Linked DNA regions of Homo sapiens: all the other regions are linked to region 1. Evidence: fine-mapped expression QTL. A gene starts in region 1. Each other region holds a variant in brackets. All regions are shown on one strand. Distances are between the middles of the regions.

Evidence for each region. PIP is the estimated chance that this variant, and not a neighbour inherited with it, causes the effect. A credible set is the group of variants that fine-mapping cannot tell apart.
Region 2: its variant is the best candidate, but not a certain one, in a credible set for the expression of ARHGEF7 in caudate (GTEx, PIP 0.62).
Region 3: its variant is the best candidate, but not a certain one, in a credible set for the expression of ARHGEF7 in monocytes after LPS (Fairfax 2014, PIP 0.56).
Region 4: its variant is the best candidate, but not a certain one, in a credible set for the expression of ARHGEF7 in caudate (GTEx, PIP 0.54).
Region 5: its variant is the best candidate, but not a certain one, in a credible set for the expression of ARHGEF7 in whole blood (TOPMed, PIP 0.51).

What each region holds. Positions count from the first base shown.
Region 1 is chr13:111,113,217-111,118,317 of GRCh38, forward strand. ARHGEF7 (Rho guanine nucleotide exchange factor 7) reads left to right here and starts at 2,094. Exons shown (of 22, transcript NM_001354046.2): 1 at 2,094-2,475. The coding sequence starts at 2,311. It overlaps ARHGEF7-AS2 (ARHGEF7 antisense RNA 2), which reads right to left and starts at 2,462. Exons shown (of 2, transcript NR_046667.1): 1 at 2,331-2,462; 2 at 596-1,702. RefSeq lists a silencer at 1,967-2,056.
Region 2 is chr13:111,283,108-111,288,208 of GRCh38, forward strand. ARHGEF7 (Rho guanine nucleotide exchange factor 7) reads left to right here. Exons shown (of 22, transcript NM_001354046.2): 16 at 32-256; 17 at 3,040-3,133. Among named protein-coding and RNA genes, the nearest start is that of TEX29, 35 kb to the right of the region's middle. The variant C/T (reference allele first, on the strand shown) is at 2,198.
Region 3 is chr13:111,201,898-111,206,998 of GRCh38, forward strand. It overlaps ARHGEF7 (Rho guanine nucleotide exchange factor 7), which reads left to right. Exons shown (of 22, transcript NM_001354046.2): 3 at 3,392-3,476. Among named protein-coding and RNA genes, the nearest start is that of ARHGEF7-AS1, 56 kb to the left of the region's middle. RefSeq lists enhancers at 799-848, 3,967-4,468, 4,469-4,968. The variant A/G (reference allele first, on the strand shown) is at 2,825.
Region 4 is chr13:111,289,844-111,294,944 of GRCh38, forward strand. ARHGEF7 (Rho guanine nucleotide exchange factor 7) reads left to right here. Exons shown (of 22, transcript NM_001354046.2): 19 at 2,275-2,451. Among named protein-coding and RNA genes, the nearest start is that of TEX29, 28 kb to the right of the region's middle. The variant A/G (reference allele first, on the strand shown) is at 2,676.
Region 5 is chr13:111,302,795-111,307,895 of GRCh38, forward strand. ARHGEF7 (Rho guanine nucleotide exchange factor 7) reads left to right here. Exons shown (of 22, transcript NM_001354046.2): 22 at 197-2,938. The coding sequence ends at 319. Among named protein-coding and RNA genes, the nearest start is that of TEX29, 15 kb to the right of the region's middle. RefSeq lists enhancers at 1,460-1,529, 1,610-1,669. The variant A/G (reference allele first, on the strand shown) is at 2,864.

The sequences.
Region 1 (5,101 bases):
TCATTAGAAACGAAGGAAGCGAAGCCACAGGCTTGCGTGGAAAGCCATTCTCCACCTCTTGAGGCAAGTCCAGAGGAGAGCCACAGAAAGGGCTAAACTTCCCCTTAGACAATAGTCTTAACTCGAGCTAACCCAATAGCCCAAAAGTGATGGGCACCAGATTGCACTCCGCGTGGCCTCTGTAATAGGAACCTGGAAAAGTGCTAAGGAAAGTTTAACCAAAATGCCCACTTTGGATACTAAAACAACTCAATTAAGCACCTAAAAATATCTAGCTTTGAGCAATGTTACTTTCTAAAATCCCTTCCAAGTAAACTCTTTTTCTGAAATTAATAAATACCCAACATAAAAGAACGCAACTAGTAACCATAAAGTGTTTAAAAGTCTGGGCTTCTCCCCACCAAGAAAAGACGAGTTGTAATACCTGGACTGTGGGTCTCCAGTCCGACAAGAATTGGCTCTCTGCTTCACTGGTCTCGTAAGGTCACTCCCTAGAATTGGCTTTCTATAGGACCATTTAATTGAGTCTATTTGAATCTTACTCAAGTCTACCACCTTATAAGTATCAAACCGAATTTAGTAGGATTCGAAATGGTAAGGACTGCATTAAATTATTTCTCTAATTCAGCAGTAAGGAAAGTGAACAGAAGTCTCGGTGTACAACCACGCCCCGGGTTGACATCTTTCCTTCCACGAAGACACTGGGTACAAGCCTTGATGTAGCTGTTAATTGCCCTCCTGTTTCCTAGAAAGCTTATAGGGCAGCAGTAGGAAACGGGTTAGGTATGCCTTTCCTGGTAGGAGCCGAGCTTTGGGTCTTATCTCTGCCACTTGTTCGGCATCTGATCAGTAAAAGGGGACCATGATGGGAGGCGAGGCAGTAGACAGCACTTTGTGACGGTTCCTAACCAGTCGCTGTTATCACTGAGCACATTGTCCTCGTAATCCAGAATTCATACTGCCATTTGAATATTTTTTGTATTTGCAAAGAAAATTTTAACCACTTAACTCAAGGCTAGAAATAAAAGCAATTAGTGATTGCAAGAGAAATCCACCGGCAGAAGGCAGGGGGAGACGACTTAAGCCTCTGATTATTTTTGGAAGCTTTATATGCTTTCTAGCCTTTGTCATTGAATGGATTAATGTATGTGCCTGGCATAGACTAAGTGCTTTGCTTGTTAAACTGCCCGCGGGTCATAGCGAGCAAACTGGGGGAGCGCCCAGGGACAGTGGATGGAGTGAGTGGAGACTCGTGTCCTTTTAAGAAGAGGCTCCATTTCTTCCTCGCATGTCAATGTGTGCGTGTCATCAGTTGTTCGAGGAAGCTCGCGCATGACGCGACACTTGCCGTCTGGGCTCTCCAGGTTCGGCCTGCTGCTTTCACAGCCCAGATCTTCGGCGTCCCCGAGACGCAGCCAGGCGCCCGGCCCGGCCCGGCCCGGCCCTCTGCACAGCCCCACTTCAGGCCACGCCGTTTCCTTGACCTTCCCCCGGCAGGGTCTGAAGCGTCACCGTCCGTCTAGAGCAGAGTCGCGCAGGCCCCTGCCCTGCCGGTGAGGTCGGCGCCGCGCTCCGGAGAGTCGGTTCCTCCCGATTCAGACCCATATGGCTTCAGATGGAACCATCATTTCTGTTCCGTCATGACCGGCTTGCAAGGTAGCAAAGCGAAACAAACGTCTCGTTTTCAGCCTGTCCCCGCCACCTTGAAATAAAACCGGCAAAAATAAAAAGAGCATTCTGGGAAGTACTTCATCATTTCAACGCTCACGAATTCAAAACATAAACAAAGGCTTCCGAGTGCCCCGGCCAGGGGCGCGGGGCGCACGGCGGGCCCGGGGCAGGTAAGCGCAGGTGCGCGCCCGCCCCCACCCCCGGCTCCCTCCCCATCCGCTCCCCGCTCCCCTTCCCCTTTCCCTTCCCCGCCCGCTCCCAGCCGCCGCCGCCGCCCCGCGCACGGCCTGGAGCGGAGGCTGCGCAGGGCGCGGGGCGGCGCGGGCCGGGCGCGGGCCGGGCGGACGGCCGCGTCTTTCTTCTCCTGGCGGTGATGTCATTGGGCGACGGCGGCCGAGGCCGGGGGGCGGCGGCGGGCGCCCGCAGGTTCCCGAGCCGCTCCTGAGAAGGCGCCTGACAGCGGGCCGGGGCGCACGGAGAAGCGGGCCGGGCCGGACCTGCTGGGCCGCGCCGAGCCAATCGCCGGCGCCGGCCGCTCGATGGGCGAGGCGGCGGCGGCGGCGGCGGGGGCCGCGGGCCGGGCCGCCGCTCCGAGGTGAAGGCGCGCGCCCCTCCCCGCCTGCCTCCCGGGCCGCAGCGATGAATTCCGCCGAGCAAACCGTTACGTGGCTCATCACTCTGGGGGTGCTGGAGTCGCCCAAAAAAACCATCTCGGACCCGGAGGGCTTTCTGCAGGCGTCGCTGAAGGATGGGGTGGTCCTCTGCAGGCTGCTGGAGCGCCTGCTCCCCGGGACCATCGAGAAAGTAAGTCCCGGCCCGCGCCCCCGCCCGCGCCCCCCGGTCCGGCCCGCTGCGGCCCGGGATGCGCGCGGAGCACCTGAGGCCGGCCGCGCTCGGGAAACCCGTGCGCCCTCCTTTGTGCGCGGAGCGGCGGCGCGGCCGGCGCCAGGACCGTGGCGGGAGCTCGGGGGGCGCCATTGTGTGCGGGGCAGGGGGAGGGGGCCGGGGAGCGGGGTCGGGGGGAGGGGCGGCGCGGGCGGCGGGGGTCCCCGGGAAGGAGAGTGCACCGCAGCGAGGAGACGGGGCTTCTGCGCCGCCCGAACGCTAAGTTGCCCCTCCGCGTGGGGGGCCGGCCCCGCTCCCTGGCAGCAGCCGCATCGGAAACCGCGTTCCGACGCGGTGCGGCTCACTCCGCTGGCTTTGTGTGGACAGTTCTTGCCGGTGGCGTTGCGTGAGTTTCGCCTCCCAGGTTAATTGACCGGTTGCTCTGTATTTTTAAAGAGGCACGCATCTGTAGCTGAGGGCTGCGCTGTGAAACGATCTACTACTTTCCCCTCGAGAAAATTCCCCACCTATCCGAGCCGAGAGGACGGCAGACACAGGGTCTAAGTCCTGGCACTCTTCAAGGCTTGTTAAAATTCTAGATTTCGTTCTCAGGTCCCTCCCTCGTTCTGAACAGAACCTTTAGTCCTGCAGGCACTGCTTCTCCCTTCCGGCTGGTGGTTCCCAGGCTGGAGCGTGTGAACCCTGACCCGAATCTCTGGAAGTGATTAAAGTTTGTTTTCATCGCCCACAAGCCGGCCAGCAGGGCCGAGGAGGCAGGAGAGTTTCTAAAAACGATGTCTCCCTGTAGCTCAAAATACTAAAATCTTATTCCCAGGGTGTTTCTTCGGGGGGTGGGGTGGGGGTGGGGGTGGCCAATATATAGCGTTAAGATCAACAGTTATTTAAAAGGTGTTAAATATAGAAATTGAAGTGTACCATAATTAGGAAGAAGGATTTCAGTTTTTAAGTGGGGTGTATTGGCCCCCATACAGGATGACAACAACTTGTAAATAAAATGCCACGTAAGTGACTTGAAAAAGTAAAATGTTTAATTTTTTTCATTCACATGTACATATTCTCTTGCTACATTTTAAATGAGGTCAGAAAACATTTTATTTAATATGAATTTGGCTTGCATTCCACTTTTAGCTATTTTTCTTACTTGGAACATCTTTATGAAAACAGAATCTGCATATTAGAGTGAATGGCTGCCTGCCTGTCCATGAAATAAAAATGTTCCTTAAAAATGAACCTGATGTCACAGTGAAATTATGATTTAAGACAGGAGGACTGAGGAGCAGGAGCTGACTTTCAAGGCATTCAAAATACTTTGCTGTTTGGATACTGGTACCTCTGGTAATGAAAGACAGATGTTGAAAAGTGTTGAAATGCATGCAAAGTTCACCAAAATAGGCTTAAATAAAATTCTGTTCCATCCCTAAGAGCAAAGCTTTAAGAAGTGTCATATGCTGTATTGATAAAAACATGTCGCCATCAAAGAATATGTTGTTTGGCATATTAACTGTATTAATATTGATTGGCCGACTTCAATAATCATTTTCTTTTAAATTATAGAAAGATTTTCCTAGAAAACCGTAGCGTTCATTTCATCTCTAAAACAACAAAGAGAAGAACGAATAAAATGTTGAGCTTGCAGAAGCCAAGTTGAAACAACTCAACATATTCTAAAACTACAGTCATCTGGAAATTTCTTAGGTCAGAGCTGTTTTTGATTCCCCCTGAGCTCCAGTTGGTTTGTGTTAAACTGACTCTGTCACAATGAAAGTTTAATGTGAAGGCAGCGTATTGTAGACACAGTTACTGGTTCTCTGGAGTTCAAAGGTAGGTTTTTGGAGTAAAATATTAGCCGTTTTCTGCCTCTGAGATCCCTGTGTTTCAGAAGTTTTGTGAGCTTTTTCCATTTGCTAGGCAGAGTTATCTGGGTTTCTTTCTTTCTTTTCTTTTTCTCTTTCTTTCTTTCTCTCTCTCTCTCTGTCTCTCTCTCTCTTTCTTTCTCCTTCCTTCCTTCCTTCGAGATGGGTTCTTGCTATGTTGGCCAGGCTGGTCTTGAACTCCGGGCCTCAAGGGATTGTCCCATCTAGGCCTCCCAAAGTGCTGGGATTACAGGCGTGAGCCACCACGCCCAGCCAGTTATCTGGGTTTTTGGTGTTTTCATGCTTACCAGATAATCTATGCCACAAAGCACACATGCTGAATAACTTTTACTTAAATGTGGGAATGTGAGTCTGAGGATGTTTTTTCCTTAAAAAGAAGCATTTGGAAACTTAACTGAATGTTCATGTGGACATGACAGGGGCTTCGCTTGACCTCTGCTGCAGGAGTGCCCTGACAGCCAGTGAGCGGAGGGCAAGTGGCCTGCAGCCTTCGCCTCTGCAGGCTCACAACCTGGCATGGGCCATGAGGCTGGGGATGAGGGCAGAACTAAAACGTGGCTGGGTGCCTCGGGCTTCCCATATGTCTTTTATTAAGAAACCATGCCCTAATGTGTTTCTTCCATTACGCTCATTTGTTCTGTTTCAGAGTTAGGAAGAGGGTGGAGGGAGCAGAGAGGACGTTCACGGCGTGTCAGATTCTTCTGCTCATT
Region 2 (5,101 bases), 170 kb after region 1:
CTCTGCCCTTCCCGCTCTGTGCCCTTGGCAGCTCCCCTCCCACCCGGTCACTCCGTCCAGCAAGCACGCAGACAGCAAGCCCGCGCCGCTGACGCCCGCCTACCACACGCTGCCCCACCCCTCCCACCACGGCACCCCGCACACCACCATCAACTGGGGACCCCTGGAGCCTCCGAAAACACCCAAGCCCTGGAGCCTGAGCTGCCTGCGGCCCGCGCCTCCCCTCCGGCCCTCAGCTGCTCTCTGCTACAAGGAGGTGAGGTCCCTTGACCACTCAAACAGCCAGATGACGGTGAGCATGCCTCGGGCCCTGGGTGTGCCCACGTGCTGGGCCTTCTGTGTACAGCAAAATGCACCCTAACTCCTAGAGAACTGAGAAGGGGGGGTCTGCCTTGGTTCTCTGGTTATCTGCTCTGCTGCTGAGAGGCCCGTGGTAACCTGTGTGGGAAGGCGATGTGCAGGGTCCCCCTCCTTTCTGCCATGCACAGGGGGGCCTTTACTGCACTTGCCGGAGGAGTGTGCCGCCAGGGGCCAGGAGCTGGAAAGGCGCTGAGCCCAGGTGGCTTTCACTCCCTGTGTGTGAGGCCATCGCTCAGCATCTGCACGCTGTCTGCTGCGTCTAACGACCCCTCCTCTAGGTTGGGGATCCTGTCCAGGAGCCCTGCATTTTGTCATCCAGAAGCCATTTGAGATGAAGAGAACATTTACTAATACAAATGAAAAACAATCACTTAGGCGGTTTCCCCCTTTGATGCATAAGAAATCATGATGCGGTCTTTGCTTGTCTCTGTTCTCATCCGGCATTTTTATATTTGCTAGGCGCAAATAAAGTACGATTCCAATGAATAAATAGAAGTGTTAACACTTCCTTACACTTTTACCTAAACCAGCTTGGATGAGGAAAGGAAGTGTCTTTAGAAATCTGTTCTGAGAAGTACTTTCACCTGAGGAAGCTGATAATTGAGATGAGAGTTGTTTTCATAAGCAGTTGAGCGTGCATGGTGGTGAGGTATGAGGAGTGGCGGTGAGAGTGTGGGTATCGTGCGCGTCAGTGTGAGCAGCAGTGCCCGTTGGTGGGGTGTGAGTGAGCGTGAGGATGGTGACACGCTCTTGCCTGGCATTGTGCCTCTGTGTCTGGTCAAGGCCACATTTGCCAAGGGAACTGGAGCAGACTTTTTCTACATTCTTGCCGGCAGCCCTGGGGGTTTTAAGGCCCACAGGAAAGTACTGTATGAGAAATTAGGATCTGTGCTTTTCATTTTTTGTTCTGAGTCTTTGTTTTTATGATATCTTTCAGGTAATCATGTGTGCAAGTCAGAATTTCCATTTTCTATCATGGGAAGTTACTTGAAGAATGTTGCTGTTCCTTATTGTATACTTTAGTGTGCACAGTCTAAAGAAAAAGTGAGCTACTACAAGAACTGGTGGAGACTGAATTACTAGGGAAGAAAATTGGGATAAAACTGTTGGGCAAAGAAGTAGAAAGGGCAACGGAAGGGGTATTGAAGTGAAGATAAACAATTTTTTTTGATAAGTCTGGCTGCATTTGCTTTGCCAACTCCACACTGGGAGAGAAGGGCTCACACCGAGCAGCTGCCGTCCAGTGTTGCTGAGCACCGCCCAGCAGTAGCGTGGAGAGTGATCTTGCAGGGTGTGAGAAGAGGACATGGAGGCTCGTGGAGGCCGCTCTGCAGCCCGCTCTGCCTGGCTCTGGCTCAGGTGTGCTGTGTGCTCTGTGACCCTCTGCGCCTGCAGGTGCCCTCGGAGCACGTGAGGGGCGGGCGTTGGCTCTTCAAGGCTCTCCATCTCAATTTGCTTCGAATTAGGGAAGCCATGAGCACATGTGTATAAATGTGTCTTCTGGAACAGATTGCTGCTGCATTTCTAAGAGCTTTCCAATTTTTTATAGAAATACTTTTGTTTAACTTTTTGAAGGCTATTTTAGATTCAGAGTTTGTTACGTGGCTGTATTGGGTGATGCTGGGGTTTGGGCTTCTGGGGTACCTATTACCCAAATAGGAAACATTGTACCCAATGGGTAGCTTTTCAAAACTCACCCCCATCACCTTCCGCCTTTTGGAGTCCCCAGGGTCTGTCATTTCCATGGTCATGTCCATGTGTACCCATTGTTTAGCTCCCAAGAAAAGACTTTTAAAGATAATTTTAAAAACCAAGCTTTGTTTCCTCTGTTTCCAGC[C/T]TGGTTCATTCCATAGCACATCTCATCTTCTGAGTCTTGGTCTCGCGTTTAGCATTCGTGATGGTTTATGTCGTTGGGGTGATGCAGAAACCAGCCTTTTTTTGATATCGGTATTTAACACGTGCTTGACAGTTGACACCTTACCTGCTCTGTTGGGACTTGCTTTGCTCACTTTGTTTTTTGCCGTCGTCTTCTGTGCTTGTTTGAAAAGCTGTTTGAAGAGGTAAGGGGTGGGCCATTCCGTTGTGAACACTCTGAGCTGGTGTGCATGTGGCCCCTGCACAGCAGCCCTGGCCGAGCTTGGCTGTGCTCCTGGCACTCAGAGTCAGGTAGCTGAGCACTCGCTCCCTTTTCTTCTCCCTGAAACTTCAAATATTTTCTTAAAGCAATTATTTTTTACTTATCTGTCATTTAATGACAACCTTAGTTTCCTCCTCTCTTTCCAGTTAGCTGTGCCAGGGGATAGGTCTGTCCTAGGGAGCAGCTGCCCCCTCCTCTCCTCCTCCCTCAGGAGCGTGCAGGATGTCTGTGCACACCAGCGCCAGCCTGCCTCCTGGTGACACCTCTCATCACAGGACTAACAGGACCCAAATGACACGAGGGGTTTTATTAGAATTAAAAAAAAAAAATTAGCCAATGACTAATACTGAAAATGCCCTATTGATTTTTAAAAATTAACGTTCAGAAGCTGGTAAAGAAAAATCAAAGTAGGAAAAGGCGAGAAGCTCTTATCAGTGGCTATAATAATTTGGGGTTTTATACCTTTACAGCAGCCTTTCTGATATGCCAGTGAAAATGATTGGCTTTAGAGTATGTTAGCATTTTCTTTTGTCTTTCCCTAGGATCTTAGTAAGAGCCCTAAGACCATGAAAAAGCTGCTGCCCAAGCGCAAACCTGAACGGAAGCCTTCAGATGAGGAGTTCGCGTCCCGGAAAAGTGAGTACCTGCGGTCCGTGTGGTGGAGGACGTGGCCTCCTGGTCACGTAGGCCATGGCTTTCCTGGGATAGAGGGAGGCTTGGTGGCTTTCTGAAGACTCCAAACAAAAGTAAGGTCTGCCCCTTGAGGCAGTGATAGGAATAAGCCACGTAACATTTACCCAAGCAAGCAGGAGAAGCGCCTTTGTGTCAGTGGTGAAGCCTCCGTGCCAGTCCCGGCACCACTGCCTTATAGCCCCTTCCTCATCCAGGAGCTGGGGCCGGACCTGGAGGGCTCTCCTGCTCTTCTGGTTCTCCCTCTCGCCTATAAGATATTCCACCCACACTTCCTGAAGTGCCAGCATCTCCCAAAGCACCCTGTGTCTGTTAGAAGCGTGACCTGCTGTGTTCTCCTGTGGGTAGCACCCACCCGTGCTGTTCTCTTGCTGGTCTCTCTGCTGTTGGACCTGTCCTGTCTGCTCCTCAGGCCTAGGGGTCTGACTCAGCTCTGGGTTCCTATGTGGCCTCGCAGCAAGCACCTGGCACCTGTTAGGTGCTCGGTAGATAGCTTTTGAATAAGTGGAGCTCTTTTCAGAAGTAAGTGATTTTCCTGGGGGTGACTGCTGGGAAGGGGTGCACGTGAACAGATTGCTGTGGACTGATGGGTGCAGCCCAGGGAGAGAGAGCCAGCTCTGGGAAAGTTGCAGGATCTGTCCTACAGGGCTCTGCCCTGCCCCGCCCCTGTGTCTGAGCTCAGCCTTTGTTGGTCCTTTGCCTTCACTGCTCACTTCCTCCAGCCTCAGGAGGAGGCCCAGCAGCCGTCCCACACGCTCACTGTGCCATGCCACTGCTGGCCTCCCCTCACCGCCACCTTATCATCAATCAGCCCAGTGAGGTGACCGTGCTGGGGTGTTCATTCTTTTCTTGTCCTTGTCACCTGATGTCCATGGCAGTATAAGTCACCATCCTGACTGTCCTTCTCCTTAGGTAGTCCAGGTCCCTGACCACCAGGGCCCCTGATGAGATGGTGAGGCCCTGGGGTCTAGTGATTGAAGTGGAGCTGGTGCTGGATGCCTGCTCTGTTGCTTACTGGCTGTGCCGGGGCTTCTCTCTGAGAGGGCTGTTCTGTGGGCCACTTCCTTCAGCAGATCCAGGGGCAGCACTGAGCTGGGCCGGGGGCCGGCTGCAGCTGAGACCATCGTTCATGGACGCGTGCTTCATCAGCACCTTCGTGGGCTGGGTGGGAAGGATACAGTGTGGCCGAAAGAGATCCCTGTTCTCATAGAGCCTATGTTTTAGTAGGAGGATACAGACAAGAAACAAAACAAGTGAACAATGTGTGGGCCATGGAGTGCTGCAGAGACCCAGTGGGGAGGACAGGTGGGAGATTCGGTGCCAGGGCGCCATTTGAGCAGCCTCCTGGGGCTGAGGAAGCAGGCCAAGCAGGTGTCTGGGGAGGAGCTCTCCAGGCCTGGTTGCAGAGACCCTGAGCAGGAACCCCAGGCTGTGCCCAAGGGACAGTGCGCTGTGTGGGCCCAAGCTCCCCTGGCAGAGCGGGAGGTAGCACAGCACCCTGAGCAGCAGGCAGCCAGAGTCCGGTTCCATAGACAAGATGATGGGCCCGGGTTTTCACAGGACCACGGGCTGCCGTGTGGGGAACAGACAGGCACGGATGGCCACGTCGACACTGAGAGTTGTCGGCCTTTTGTTTTCATCTGGCTGGCGTGTGGAAACACGAAAATGTTTTAATTTTCATTTCTTGTTTTAGCGAGATTGGACATTTTTTCTTAGAACTCTTCTTGTTTTGTGACTTCCTTATTCCTATCTCCTGCCCTTTTTTCAGTTTGAGAGTGGGGATACTAATTTTCTTACGGGTTGGTAGGATAATCATTATAAAGTTAGGATGTTCGCCGTTTTTCCAAATGTGTTGCAAATATTTTTATTTGCATTTATTTTATTTTATTTTGAATATAACTCATGAATTTTGTA
Region 3 (5,101 bases), 89 kb after region 1:
TCTATCCTTGTTTGAATACTCTGGGCTTCTTTTATCCCTGATTTGGTATTGTATTTGATTATGTAGTTTCTATTGAGAGCAAAATACCAAAAATAAGCTAAGGAATTTTAATGTTAGTTTTCTGGTGGAAAACTGGTAGGATGATTTCATTTTGGGAGTATCGGATCATTCTATTGCACATTTAATTCACTTAAATGTAAAAGTAAGGGTGAGTGTTTGAAATACGCTTTTTCAAATGGATAGATCCTAAAGCGTATTATGGTGCGAAGTGTGTCTGTGCAGCCACCCTTGTCCCCAGCATGGTGCCTGTGTGGGGTAGTGCAGGTGGCAGGAAGTGTGCCTGTGCTGGCATTGAGGCTTCAGCTGGGCAGGATTCCTAATGACCTTCCTTACCTCACCAGGAGCGCTTCTCACGCTTGGCTGTGTGTTGGAGTCACTTGGAGAGGGTTGGCATTTTGATTTGAGTCTCTGGACTCCAGAACACTGCTGGAGTATCCTGCCCTTTTACAGCCCCCCAGGAGGTCTTAACATGTAGCTCCTGCTGAGAATTGCTGCTCCTGAGGCTGAGGCTTCCAAAAGGAGGCCTGGAGACAATGGAATATGGTTTGTACTTCCTTCCCTCCTGCTGCTCCTTGCCATTGCCAAGAGTGGAAATACTGCTAAAGCACCCAGCAAGTCATGGTGGGGAATGAATGAATCCCGTCTAAGACACTTGTTTTAATAACCCTAGGGAACAATTTAGTGTGCTAAATGTCATGGTAATTCTTACATACACACTGATTTACTTTTTGCAGAGAGATTTCTATAAAAGTTTTGAGACTTCCCTATTATTCCCATAGTACAAAATTTCTCTGTACTCAGATTTTTCTGTTTCTGTTTTTTGTTGAATAGATTTCTATTTTAGGAAATAGTCTGTTATCTTTCTCTAGAGAAGCACTTCAATCGAAACATTTTGTTGGCTGAGAATGTGCATTTTCCCCCTCTCAGGGGTAAGGATTTGCCTCATCTCATTGTCTAGCTTCCTGTTGAGAAGTGTGGTGTGTGTATTCACTTAAACTCTGATGTCATATTGAAGCCCATTGGTGGGCAGTTTCAGCCAATCAGATGCTTCCTGGGTATCCAAGTAAGAAAGATATATAGTTCTGGAATAACAGGAAACTTCACATTTTTCACATCCTGTTATTCTGGGTTTTGTGACTTGCTGCCTTGCCACTATGAAGGTTAGTAGAAATTTATGTATGTATTTCTTTTTGTAGTATACAAAATTGACAAAATAAAAAATGACTTGAATTTTCAGAGCACTAAGATTAGATCTGTAGAGCTGAAAGACATTCAGATCTCCTATTTAAAAATGTTATGATGAAGAGAAATTTTATGTTTTGCATATAAGGAAGCTGAGGCCTATTTAATTCCTTTTAAAAAATGCAGCTTAACCCGTATTTGTTATAGGTGGTTATGTCAGCCTAGATGCTGCTCTCATTTGAGTTGGGATTTCTTCTTAAATAATAAATATTACAACAAATGTATTCTGTATGAAAGATGATTCTAAAGACTATCTGTTCTAAGGACTGTTTTTTAAAGGAAGGATTTAGCTTCATGAAATCAGTTATATTTTGTGCCTTTTGTTAGAAATGGCATCGGTAAGCACATAGAATGCTTAGATGTGTTCACAGCTTTCCTTTTACGTTTTGTGGTTCCATCTGATATTTCCTTGTGAACTTTAAGAAAGTGACCTCTGGTTTTCAGCTCCTTTCTTGACTCTTTTAGTGATTTGGTGGGTTTTTCTCTTGAGGTAGTTTTTCAAAGTCTGGTTCTTCTTTATTTATGTTTAAACATCTCATGACTATTTTTACTTATTTGGAAAATTATAGACAGAAGGCCTTTAGCTGCAGATGAATTTTGAATAATACAGCAGGACTTTTTCACATTTGGTGTCACTTTTCTTAGCTTCTCTTGGCGTGAGCTTCATTACAGCAGCATGCGGTGCCTGCAGGGTGGGTGGCTGGTTGGATGCTGGTGCACGTCTCCATTCGGATGCCTTTTCACTGTGCACCGGCCCCTGTGCTGGGTGTTGGGAGATGTACAATCTGCCACTGCAGATTTTTAGTCTAGGGAGGCCTGTAGACATCCACCATCAAACTATCATGACACGTGTTCTGGGGGAGCCTGGCTGGGGACCTGACCGGGTGTGGTGGGGGCAGCCAGGCTGTCAAGGCAGGGCTGTGTCAGGAAGCAAGATGAATAAGGATTAGCCAGGAAAGGGAAGGGACCGAAGGCAGGAAGAGGAAGAAGTGGGGCTTCTGGCAGGGTCTGCTAGAGGTGTGGGGAGAGGGCAGGACTGACAGGAGGAGACGACAGCCCTGGAGAGAAGGTGGGGCCCTTGTCCACTGATGCTTATTTCCGGTAATCTCAGTTAGAACATATGGCAACAGGATACACGTTTTGGTTTTTAAATGTATCTTTCTGTTATTGGCACCTCTGAAAGAATTTTTTTCTTAATTTTTCTGGAACATAGTTGTGGACGATTTGACTGTTTATCTTTGCTTGAGGTTATTTGGTGATCAGAAGCCATATGTAGTCTTTGGGCAGTATCTGAGATGAGAGCTCTGTTTGTTTTGACATGGCTGTGTGTGTGCACACGCGTTCTAGACACTAGTTGCCACATACCTAGGCAAACCAATGTGCTTTACCTTTCCAAGCTCCAGGATGGTGGTGGGAAGTGCCTGCCAGTGGCAATGTGACCAGCTCCATCGTGGTCCCAGGGCTCTAGATAGCCCTGGACTGGAGGGGATGCGGTTGTGGGCTTGCCTGGTTCTGGCCTCAG[A/G]GCTCTGAGGGTGGTGGTCTCTTGTCCCTGCCCCTTTCCTATCTGGGATCTGCTTCTCCTGTCTGTCCTCCTTTTACCCTCACATCCACTCTGCTCTCTGATGTCCGCATTTTCTTTTGCTGCTGTTAGCTTTGGAATCGACTGTCATTTTCCCTTATTTTCTGTGGCTAGGAAAGAACATCTGTAGCACGCCTTGCCTGGGGCCTCTGTGTTAATCTAAGGAGAGGAGGATTGCGCAAGCACCGTGCTTGCTTGCTGAATGCCAGCAGCCCACCCCCCCACCCCGCCCCGCCCCCGTGAATGAGCTCACACTCCAGAGGGGCAGGGGCGGGTGTTGGGTAGGGAATTGGCCTAATGCCGAGGGGGGACCCTGCACCTAAGTAGGAGAATTTTGATTGGGTTCTTACCTCAGGACTGAGAGACTGAGCGTGCTGGTCTCCCTGTCGCAGGTTGTGCGGTCTCCTTAGGATTTCAGGCTGAGCATCGTCGCGTTGCTGGGAGAACTTAGTTCATCCTGCACCCAACATAAGACTCTACTAATTTTGCTTGTTTAATTTTTCCTTTCAGACGTTTGATGCAAATGATTTGTATCAGGGGCAGAATTTTAACAAGGTCCTCAGTTCCTTAGTGACTCTAAATAAAGTAACAGCAGGTAAGACTCTTTTTTATTGAACTCGAGGGGGTGGGAAGACATACGGGCTGACACCTTTGGTTTTCTTGTTTTACCAAAGCCAGGGGAGCATTACTGAATTTAAAAAATAAGCTTTTGTTGCATTACGTTTTGATTGTTCCTTTTGCTGTGATATTTTATTTGCCTTGTTAGAATAGAATCTTCTTTAAATGTTCTGGTATATATCAGGTGTTTTCCTTTCTGTGGGTGGAGAGATTTCTCACCTGAACGTATAGCAGGAGAAAAGTGTCTAGTTCTTATGGGAAGGCTCATGGGCTGTGTTGGAGCTAGAAGCACCTTTCTCTCAGTTTTTACTGAGTGTATGCTGGTTAAAATTTGTATCTAGTGGGCAGAAGTTTTGAGCTGTGACCATGATAAGGGAGTGGCTCGTGGATTGGCCTGTAAAGTCCACACTACCTGTCCAGGGCTCCTGAGGGCTGTGGCACCCAGGTACATGGTGTGTGTGGTCCTAGCCCCCATTAGTACTGAAGTGGAGAGGAGGTTTTGGGGACATGGTGTGCCCCTCTCATGGGCCACAGCGAAGACAGGAGTTGTTCAGACAGGTCCTCTGAGGGAAGGTGCATGTTGTCCATGATGCCAAGGTCCCCGGAGGAAATGCTCCATGAGCCCTGAGGAGCTCTTTCTTGGATTTCTGTGTGGCTCAAAAGGAAGGAACTTTTTAGTTGCTTTTTTGGTCTTATTAGAGTAATTTTTTTTTCCTATTTACCTTCACGGATGTTAAATATCAGGTTTGTGGGGGAAAGTGCCGTGTCCTTTTCAAACAGAAACCTCCTGAGTTGATTTTGTCGGGGTCGCTTCTCAGCTTCGTCTGGCCCTTCAGAGGGGGGGGTGTACTTGCCTCACTGCACATTGAGGAGAGACGGGGGTTATGCATGCTTTGGGGCTGCAGTTCCTGGCTCCCGGAGGCTTCATCGGTGGTGCAGGGACTGTCCTTGGTGCTGCCTCCCAGCGCATGTGTGCTCTGACTGCTGTCTGGAAGCTGATGCTGCTGCTGCTGATGCTGATGCCCCGGCGAGAGGCACTGGCCCCCATCCCTGGGAGCAGGGGCAGACCCCAGGCAGAGGTGTGGCTGTGGCTGCGTGTTCACAGCTTGACTTCTGAGGTTTAAAGGACTGTTCAGATGAAAGCATCGAGGAAACAAAAATTTAAATGGCAGGATTATGAAGATGGATGTAACTAATGAAAATTGTCACATTATTTAATGCCTTCTCTGTCTCTACAATCTAAAAATGATCCTTTTAATATGAACAAACAATAAGAAAATCACAGCCGGGTGTGGTGGCTCATGCCTGTAATCCCAGCACTTTGGGAGGCCGAGGCGGGCGGATCACGAGGTCAGGAGATCGAGACCATCCTGGCTAACACGGTGAAACCCCGTCTCAACTAAAAATACAAAAAAATTAGCCAGGCGTGGTGGCGGGCACCTGTAGTCCCAGCTACTCGGGAGGCTGAGGCAGGAGAATGGCGTGAACCCGGGAGGCGGAGCTTGCAGTGAGCCGAGATCGCGCCACTGCACTCCAGCCTGGGCGACAGAGCGAGACTCCATCTAAAAAAAAAAAAAAAGAAAAAGAAAAAAAAAGAAAATC
Region 4 (5,101 bases), 180 kb after region 1:
GTCTATGACATTAAGACTTTTTGCCAAGGGTCAACACTGTTGGTTTTTTTGTCCATACTTTAGTGAAAAATATCCATTTGTAGTGACTGCTTATCAGAATAGGAGAGAAATAGAGAAACGGAAAGGCCTGGGTAACCCATCAGAAGGTGGAATAAATATGTGTATAATCACACAATAACGTCTAAGTACAAATTGTTGTGATGAAAGGTACTACATTTTTATAATTTGATATTGATCATGTTTTAAGTAATAGGCTGTAAAATGTGGCCATAAATTTTTGGATTTTGAATTTGAGATTTTTTTGTCATCTCAATTTCAGTTACTTGAAATAAAATTTTAACCAAGTAGTCTTAGATGAACAGACCAGGTTCAGTTGGCCACCCAACCGTGTCTGTGAGTTCTGCATTTGTGAATTCAACCAACTGCAGATAACTACTCAGAAAAAAGAAACAATAAAAAGTAACAATATAACAGTAAAAAATAATACAAATAAAAAATAATTATACTTATAACAGCTATTTATATGGCATTTACATTGTATTAGGTACTATAATTTAGAAATGACTCAAAGTATATGGGAGGTTGTGTGTAGGTACAATGCAAACACCATGCCATCTTATATCAGGGACTGGAGCGTCTGAGGATTTTGGTGTCCAAGGGGAGTCCTGGAACCAATCCCCTGTGGGTGAGGGCCGACTGAGGGCTGAGCTTTGTATGTGTCATAGTGCCCACCACATTTCTTCATGACCAGGGTCCTGTGATACGCTGCGGCTTCACGGCCCCTGGCTGCCTAAGGGGAATGGCCCACAATTCCTTTTCTTTTCTTGTCACATTGCCTGTATTCTGTACTTCCATTTCTCCTGTGCAAGAAAAGCATTGAACGATACATTGATTTTTGTTTTTAATTCATATTATGGGCAAACCACTCTGGGGCTTCAGGGAGCTTGCAGTCATATATGCCCTTTAAACCTAACACTCAAAACTAGGGAGTAATAGGAGAAATTGCTCGCTTGTGCTGGAAAGGTGGTATACTTACTCAAGGTGTCTGGAAATGGGATCATAGTGAAAGCAGCTCTTTTTACATTAAATGCTTAGTAAAACGGGTTTTAGAAGGATAATATATTTTACCTAAAATGCAGCTCTGTTCAATACACACATTTGGATGCCAAGAAGATTTTGTAAACCAAACTTCCTTGGTATTGATTTCTAACTCCAGGAAGTAACGGCCCTCACAGTCTGTTATGATGTAGTTCTCGCAGTCTGAGAACAGAGGTCAATTTGATAGAAGCAGGAGTAGGGAGGGGCCAGGGCTACTGTGATTTGCCTTCACCTAGCGAGGGGCATCCCCGCCTCTGCATGGAGGGAGACCCTGGCGGCCCAGCCTGCCTCTCAGCCCAGGTGCCTGGCCATGGGCAGTGCTCATAGTTGCCAGCCACTCGTGATTATTTCTCTCCTGACATGTTGTGCCACTTCCTCTGTCATTCTCCTTTTAACACTGGGACGTTGCCAGTTCATGTCTCTCTTCCTGACAGCAGAGGGTCTGCATTGGGGTGGCCGGTGTTGCCAGCAGACCCAGCTTCCCACTGCACCCTGCCTGCGGGCTAAGCTCCAGCGCGCCCTGGGAGCAGGGGGTGGGTTCTGGGGCTGTGGGCCCTGCCCAATCCTTTTCTGCCCTCTGAGTTCTCACAGTGGTTATTGATTGATCAGGTAAGTCCAGACCCACTCTCAGGTTTATGGTCTTGGCAAAGAGCCAGCTGAAAAAGCCCGTCAGAATTCCTTTGAAATTATTTTGCATTTGATACATCTGTTTATTGATAGGAAACAATTTTTAATTAGCCACATAAATGGCACCTTTCCCAAATGATGTCCTAAATGAGACTATTTGTTAATTGAATGTGGAATAGAATTGATTAATTGCCACATGTCTATAGAATAATCTTTTGGACATGGGTGTGATTTGTAAAAGATTTCTTAAATGAGGGCTTTAGAGCAATATCTTTTTTTAAAAAAGCAGTTTGAAACATTGTATATTAGGTTTAATTAGATAATAATCGATCTAGTTTTATTCTAAGGGTTTTGCTAAGTTCGTTATTGTGAAACCCAGCCGTATATAAGGAAAAATATGCATTGTTGCCAATTTTTAACACTATTTTCTCTTTTCCTTCTCTTCCCATCACCTTTTGCTTTTGTTCCATGTTTTGGTTGTGGCTCTTCCTGTCGTTCTCCTCCTCACCCCCTGCCTGTCGCGCCTGTCCCTCCGCCCGCCCGTCTTAGCATGGCAAGGCACTGACCTGATGCATAATCACGTCTTGGCTGATGATGACCAACCAAGCCTAGACTCCCTGGGGCGTCGCAGTAGCCTTTCTCGTTTGGAGCCTTCAGACCTCTCGGAAGACTCTGACTATGACAGTATATGGACAGCCCATAGTTACAGAATGGGTTCTACATCTCGTAAGAGCTGTTGCTCATATATCTCTCACCAGAACTAATGCACTTCTGAGCTTTTCTTAACAAATGCTTGTTGTATCGCAGCCTGCTTTTCTTAGATGTTTTCTTGCTGTTCCTTGTCTCTTTTATGTGATATTTTAACAACTTTTGAGAGTGTTCCTGATATTTCCCATTGTACTTTGTGGAGGCTTAACTGCCGATGCGAGTATACATTCGAATGACTGACT[A/G]TTGGAGGGAGGTGGTGTGTTCACGTGAGCCTACATCCGAGGGTGCTCTTCGTAAGGGGTAGTTGTTGTTTTATAGCTCCAAATGGTTTTTTTATTCTCAGTGTAGCAACTGTTTGATTTCTTTCTGGATACAGCTGTATGAACACTTTTCTATTTTATACTGAAATCACACAGGTTTGTGATCTAAGTGCCAGAACCATGGAGGAGACTCTGGCCTTATCTGTAGGGACCTAAATTTTTTAAGTGCTATGAACACTGATCAAGTAGTTGTGGAGAGATGAGAAGAATATATGCAGCAAAGGTGCTGTGAGCCCAGTTCCAACGGCTGTGTTCTGGTAATCGTGCAGAACAGCATGTGGGCTCTGGGCCTTGGCAGGTGCACAGACGGGCGGGCGTCACGTGTGTTCAGAGCTTGTCTCCACCTCACGGCTCTGTGCTCTTCTGTGTGCTGCGTTGTGGCCGTGAAGTGGGAGCTCTCCTTTCCAAAGGCAGAGCTTACTGTCATGGCTCAGATGTTCACTCGCATCTTCACCCCAAACTTCCCTGAATTGCAGTGATTTCTGTTATAAGGCACATAGCAAGCCTGTACCACTCTACAGTAAAATCTCTACACTAACAGTTTAAAGCCCGAAAGCTGAAGCATTCAGCCTCTGCAAGTGTAGACTACTGGACTGTAGTAGAGGCATTTGGAATACTTACAAAGTCAAGTGCTGTGGCTTCAGTTCCCCCGGCTCCCCACCCCTGACATCCATACTTATGTTGTCTGGAAGAGCCATGGACACATCATTATTTTCAGCAACCAGCTGCAGTGAAACTCCATTTACAGCAACCCCATAGTATAAAACCACAATGCCTCATTGTAATGGGATATTGAAGTTCATTGAAGAATTACTAGGTTGCCATGTGGCTCACTTATTTAAAAAAAAAAAAAAAAAACTCACCCGTTTTCCTGGGATTTGTTGTAAGGAGTTTTCACTGGCCTCACTCAGACCAATTTCTGCTTCAAAAAGCACTGAATGTGACCTGTTGCATTCAGTTGTAGCATCAAATCCACACCTAGTCATTGCTTGAGGGGCCAAATTGTGTTCTGTCCCATGCACGCTCTATTTGGTGTTAAAATGGAACCTTACGGTTGTGTTTTAAGTATTCATTGAAACCAGCTTCAGAAAACAAGATGCCATAGTAAATTGAGAATAACATTTTTTCCTTCTTCAGGGTGGCTGTAATTCCAGGTGGCCGTGATTTCTTTCTTCCCCACTGCCCACTCCTTCGCCAAACCCACGTATTCAGTGTTCTGATCTTGTTTGTGCAGAGTGAACTCTGATGCAGTATCAGTCTTGTCCTGGGAGCCGGGTCCTGCTGCTCACAAGCCCAGAGCTGCCAGGGAGCTCCTGGCAGTAGCACGTTGTTTAGAAAGTTGGGTGGCTTCATTCAGCATGGAACAAGCTAATGGCACAGGAGACATCAGGGCAGCTGTTAATTCCAAATATTTGTTCCCAAGTAGCTACTGAACTGCTCACACCATTGGAAGATTTTGTATTTTCATACCAATTAGTAAAAATAAGAACATTGAGGAGCAGTCAGAGCCCAGTGTTAATCTCCGGCAGAGATGGGGTTTATGTATGTTCAGCCAGATAGTAAATGGGATTTTTGGAGAAATAAGATAACTACAAAGTTTCTATACTTACTATAAGTGGATTTAGAAGCGATTTTGGTTTTGTATTACATACGGTAGTCCTCTGCGTCAGGGAGCACTTTTTTGTTTGCCTCGAGACTACTCATTAGCGCACTGGCTAAGCTGCCTTTGCCTTCTCGTAGGCGTGGGTTGCCTGTGTCATGGGCTGTGTAGACCACAACACTCAAACACAGTTGCTGCACTTGGATTTTCCTTTAATACCAAGTATCATTTGGTTATCTTACTGGGACATTTTCATTGATATTCTATACACCAAAGTTTTGACGGTTTACCATCATTCCATTTTGTACCAGTTAAAGGCATTTTGATGATGCTTTTTCTTGATGCTAAGATCACTGCAGAAGAATAACCTGACCTTTTCTTTGCATTTGTTTTGAATGTCTAACACCATTAGCTTTTGTGATCTGGTTAAGAAGTATTAGTGCCACAAGCCTGAAAAGACAGTTCTCCTGTGGCAGTGGCGATGTGGCATCCAGAGGGCCATTGTTTCTACTTTTGTGGGACTTCAGTCATGCTGATAATAGAATCTTCTGTTCATACAATTCTGTAATATTTATTTGTACAGTTAGTATTCTAATGAAAGGATGAAGAGTCTGAACTAGAAGGTAGGTTTAAGCCATCACCAGGCCTTTGCAAATGGCCTAAATGGTGTTCCCTTTGAAATAACGCTTGCCACAAGTATATAATAAGCTATATTAATTGTGTTTTGCATAAAATTGCCAAAACACAG
Region 5 (5,101 bases), 190 kb after region 1:
GCACAGTCAGGAGCACCGCTGCCACCCTGTCCAGGTGTTTGACCTTCGTGGATCCCCACGACCTCAGAGCCCATAGGCAGCTCACGTGGGATTTCATGAATCGAGGCCTTAGCTCCTCAAGGATACACATTTGGGGAAAGGAAGCCCTACGCGATGCCAAAGATAGTGAACACCCTGTGGTCTGCTTAATTTACAGGACAACAAAAAGATGAAGAAATCTCTAGAGGAAGAACAGAGAGCCCGCAAAGACCTGGAGAAGCTGGTGAGGAAAGTCCTGAAGAACATGAATGATCCTGCCTGGGATGAGACCAATCTATAAGGGATGTCCTCAGTTCTTTCTGTTGAAGACCAGTTCTGAGGTGAAGCTGGGCACCCCTGACCCAAGTCGGGGTGCACTCAGGACCACAGGGCAGGGCTGGGTGGGGCGCCACCTTGCTCTCTGTATATAGAAAAGCTGGAGCTTATTCTGCGAATGGAGACGATCAAACCATGACTGATGAATCCAGACAGGAGGGATTGACTCTGAGGACCTGAGCTACATCAATCCACTCTGTGAACATCTCAGTTACCTCATTCTGCAATAAGTTCAGTGACTGACTAAAAGTCTTGTTTTTCCAGACTTTGAATTGAATATATAAATATTATATATACATGTTTCTTGTAAATATCCCATTTTGAATGCATACCTGTGGTGGTTCTGTCCGGGCTAATCCCCATGCTAGAATGTCCTTTCCAGCTACGTGAATAAGAAGTCCCATGCCCGCATCCACCGGAAGCAGAAGCCTGGTGGATGCCTGGTTCGTTCCGCAGCACCAGGGCCTCCACCGTGCTGTGGCAGCACCCCCCATGTCGGTATTTCTAAATAACCTTATTTATACCTGCAGAGATACACTTCAGTCCCATTCAGAAGTCTTCTCTTAAAGCAGCATTACAGTCCCAGACCTGCGGGTTTCTGAGGGCAACTTGCTGGCTGACAGACTCAGTCTTGACCTCAAGGAAGGCCCATACGGCACTGCCGCATCCACCTAGAGGTGTTTGCTCTTGTCCGCTGTCTGAGTACTGTGATTCTCAGATGAGTTTGCTGCGTTTTGGGAGGACACAGACGGTTCTGTATAGGCTAGTTCAGTAACAACAAAATACACTGTTTTGTCTTCCCTCAAAGAGAGATCTTACTAGAACCTGTAAATAGAATGTATTATTTATTATAAGTCACTGCAGCTGATGAAAACAGATGGAGGCCATGCTGCAGGCTGATACTGATGGGTGGAGTTTTGTCATCAGGCCAGCCTCATCCCGAGGTCTCCTCCACCATTGGCCGTAGCCAGCAGGCTTCAGTGCTCACCGAAAGTAAAATCCCCTCCTTCAGCAAGAATAAAGCAATATACACCTTAGGTTCCACTAAGTAACATAGGCATAAGCAGGGAACGTTTCCCCCACTGTGTTCCAGTGCAGAGGAGACGAAGCCTGTCCTCACCGCGGCTCGCTGGGCCCAGGCTGGCTCTGGAAAGCCTGTGCGGTCCTGGGCAGGAAGCCCGGCCCGTGGAGCAGGTTTTCGTTCTGCTTCAGCAATAAATAAGGGTGACCACAGGGACTTTGCTTTTGGTTTCCTTTCCTGTGAAAAGGTTGGTTTTAAAGTGAGATACACTTTTCCGTAGAACAAGTGTTCTATCTTTAAAAACCCAAATTGCAGCACCGTGGATTACTGGTCTCAGAACAACTCATTGCGCATCAGATTTGACTCTCTGATTTTCTGTCTATTGGCCAAATTGCCCTTTAACTGCACCTGAATCCTTTGTGTACTGATGCCTTTGAGCTGGGCACCTTGGGAGAGTGTTGTGTTGCTGTTTACGGTTCTTCCTTGCCCTTGCTAATTACAGTCTCTGGTGCCCAGCAAGCCCCTTTGGCTTCCTTCCGTGACTGGTCACGTTGTCTGCCTGGGCTCAGCGTGGACCTGCCCCATGCTGCAGAACCTGGCCTCACCTGGACTTTTCACTAGAATTGCCAGCTTCCTCAACTTAGCAGATCATTCACTCATGCGGGCACAAGCAAAGATCAACACTTTCTTTTTTGGTAAGCTTGAGTTTTACAAGTTATTTTTTGGTGATGCGTAAGACATTGCAGTGGGAAACCATTCAACTTGAGTTTATTGGAGTTTGCTGTTGTAGCAGGTTTTAACTCAGGAACAACTCTTGTCTGATCTCTCCGCCCCTCTGCCGGGAGGCGACATTAACTGTCCTCTCGGAGCCGGTAGCGTTGCTGTCCGAGTCCCCAGGACGGATCTCCTGCAGACCTGCCTTAATGCTCAGATCGAAGTATTTCACAAGAATACTTGTGTTTTTAACAGCCCTTCCCCTGGACGGTGCGGCCATGAGGGCCTCATGTTACGGCATTGCCTTTTCTTTCTGTGGATCCAGTATCTTCCTCGGCTTTTTAGGGAGCAGGAAAAATGCGTCTGAGAGCAACTCTTTTTAAAAACCTGCCCTGTTGTATATAACTGTGTCTGTTTCACCGTGTGACCTCCCAAGGGGGTGGGAACTTGATATAAACGTTTAAAGGGGCCACGATTTGCCCGAGGGTTACTCCTTTGCTCTCACCTTGTATGGATGAGGAGATGAAGCCATTTCTTATCCTGTAGATGTGAAGCACTTTCAGTTTTCAGCGATGTTGGAATGTAGCATCAGAAGCTCGTTCCTTCACACTCAGTGGCGTCTGTGCTTGTCCACATGCGCTGGGCGTCTGGGACCTTGAATGCCTGCCCTGGTTGTGTGGACTCCTTAATGCCAATCATTTCTTCACTTCTCTGGGACACCCAGGGCGCCTGTTGACAAGTGTGGAGAAACTCCTAATTTAAATGTCACAGACA[A/G]TGTCCTAGTGTTGACTACTACAATGTTGATGCTACACTGTTGTAATTATTAAACTGATTATTTTTCTTATGTCACAGAATGTGTCGCTTCGTCTTCTTTGATGTGTTTTCTGTGTGCTTGTTAGCTTTACAGTTTCTTTGGGCTGTTTTAGATTTGAAAATTCTGTCTGTCTTTGATACTGAAGATAACATGTTTCCTTTAAAGTCTAGAGTTTGAGAAAATTTGAAGATTTTTTTTTAAAAGACAAGGAAAGAACACTGGAAGTCTTAGGAACAAAAGCTGAAGTAACAGGTCACGCTGGTAGGCACAGCCCCCAGGTCCTCACCCATGCCTGGAGGAATGACCTGCATTCTGGAAGGCGCTCAGGACACCGTTTTGTGGGATCAAGTAAGCGAAACTTTCTTGAAGATATCTGTGGGGTCCCTTTTAGGAGCTGTCATAAGACAAAAGGAAATTGCTCGTGTGTGTCCCTGTGTGGCGGTGGTGCAAACGAGGGTGTCTTCCGGAAGGGTGGCCGGGAGGACCAAGCGGGGTCTCCTGTCCATGGTCCGTGTACCTGGCTCAGGTGTGTCTACAGCTCCGCTGCATGTCATTTCAGCCAGCCAGAGGTCAGGTAGCCACACGCAGTGCCCAGCCCACTGGCTTATTGTAGGAGCTCAAAAGAAGTCAGGATCTACACTTTCAAGGACTTTAGTCATTTCAGGTTAAAACAAGTAGGCGTTCAAAAACCCATTTCTGTTGATTTGCATTGTGACAAGAACGTGCGATGCATAAGACACCTAATGTGAATTGTTCATCTTACTGGTGGAGTAGGTAGGCATTTGTACTTGATACCTCACCAGTAATTAAAAACTAGGATGTACCTGAGCCATGTATACCGTTTTTTAACTGTACACTTTTTAAAGGTATACTGGGCCATGTATACTTCATTTTCTTGCAGAACTATTTATATTTTTCCCATAAGCAGGTATTATTTTCCTAATTAAAAACTAGCATGTACCAGAGTTTTTAATTGTTAAAATAATACCTGTTGATACGGAAAATAGAAACAGTATACCAGGATACAAAGTAAAAAGCATGTATTCTGCCTCCCAGCGCCCTGACCCTGTTCCCCAGAAGTAGCTCCTGTTCTGCGTTTAGGTTCTTCTGTTCATTCTTCTGAGCAAATGCCAGTGTGTGGTGTCTGTGTTTTAACTTTTTTCCCAGCAAGTGAGATTGCATTAAGTATATTCTTTCCTAAGTTGCCTCTTTGAACCTTATCTTTCCATATGGGTATATGTAGTTTGAACCATTCATCATTTTTGACCACTGCATAAATATTCCCCTGATTGAGTGCCCTGCAGTTTGTCACCTATGAGTGGATATTTGGGAGGGGGCAGTCGCTATTGCAGAAATGCTCTACTGAATATCCTTATGTATACAGCTGTGCAACTGTGCACATACAGCTAAATGATTAACTTCTGGAAACGTTTGTGCATTTTTAACTTTGATAGAATTTGCCATATTTTTACAAGGTGTTTTGGAAATGACAGCCTTGGCAATTGTACAGTTCTAGTTTCTCAAAGAAGGAATGGGGCCATGATGGCATGGGAAGCATGCTCTTCGTTGTGATGCTTTCCCATGGAAGCCGTTGACTCCGAAACATGCTCTTCGTTGTGATGCTTTCCCATGGAAGCCATTGATTCCAAAACATGCTCTTCATTGTGATGCTTTCCCACGGAAGCCATTGATTCCAAAACATGCTCTTCATTGTGATGCTTTCCCATGGAAGCTGTTGACTCTGAAACATGCTCTTCATTGTGATGCTTTCCCATGGAAGCAGTGGACTCTGAAACATGCTCTTCATTGTGATGCTTTCCCATGGAAGCCATTGATTCCAAAACATGGTCTTCATTGTGATGCTTTCCCATGGAAGCCATTGATTCCAAAACATGCTCTTCATTGTGATGCTTTCCCATGGAAGCCATTGATTCCAAAACATGCTCTTCATTGTGATGCTTTCCCATGGAAGCCGTTGACTCTGAAACATGCTCTTCATTGTGATGCTTTCCCATGGAAGCCATTGATTCCGAAACATGCTCTTCATTGTGATGCTTTCCCATGGAAGCCATTGATTCCGAAACATGCTCTTCATTGCGATGCTTTCCCATGGAAGCCGTTGACTCCGAAACATGCTCTTCATTGTGATGCTTTCCCATGGAAGCCGTTGACTCCGAAACATGCTCTTCATTGTGATG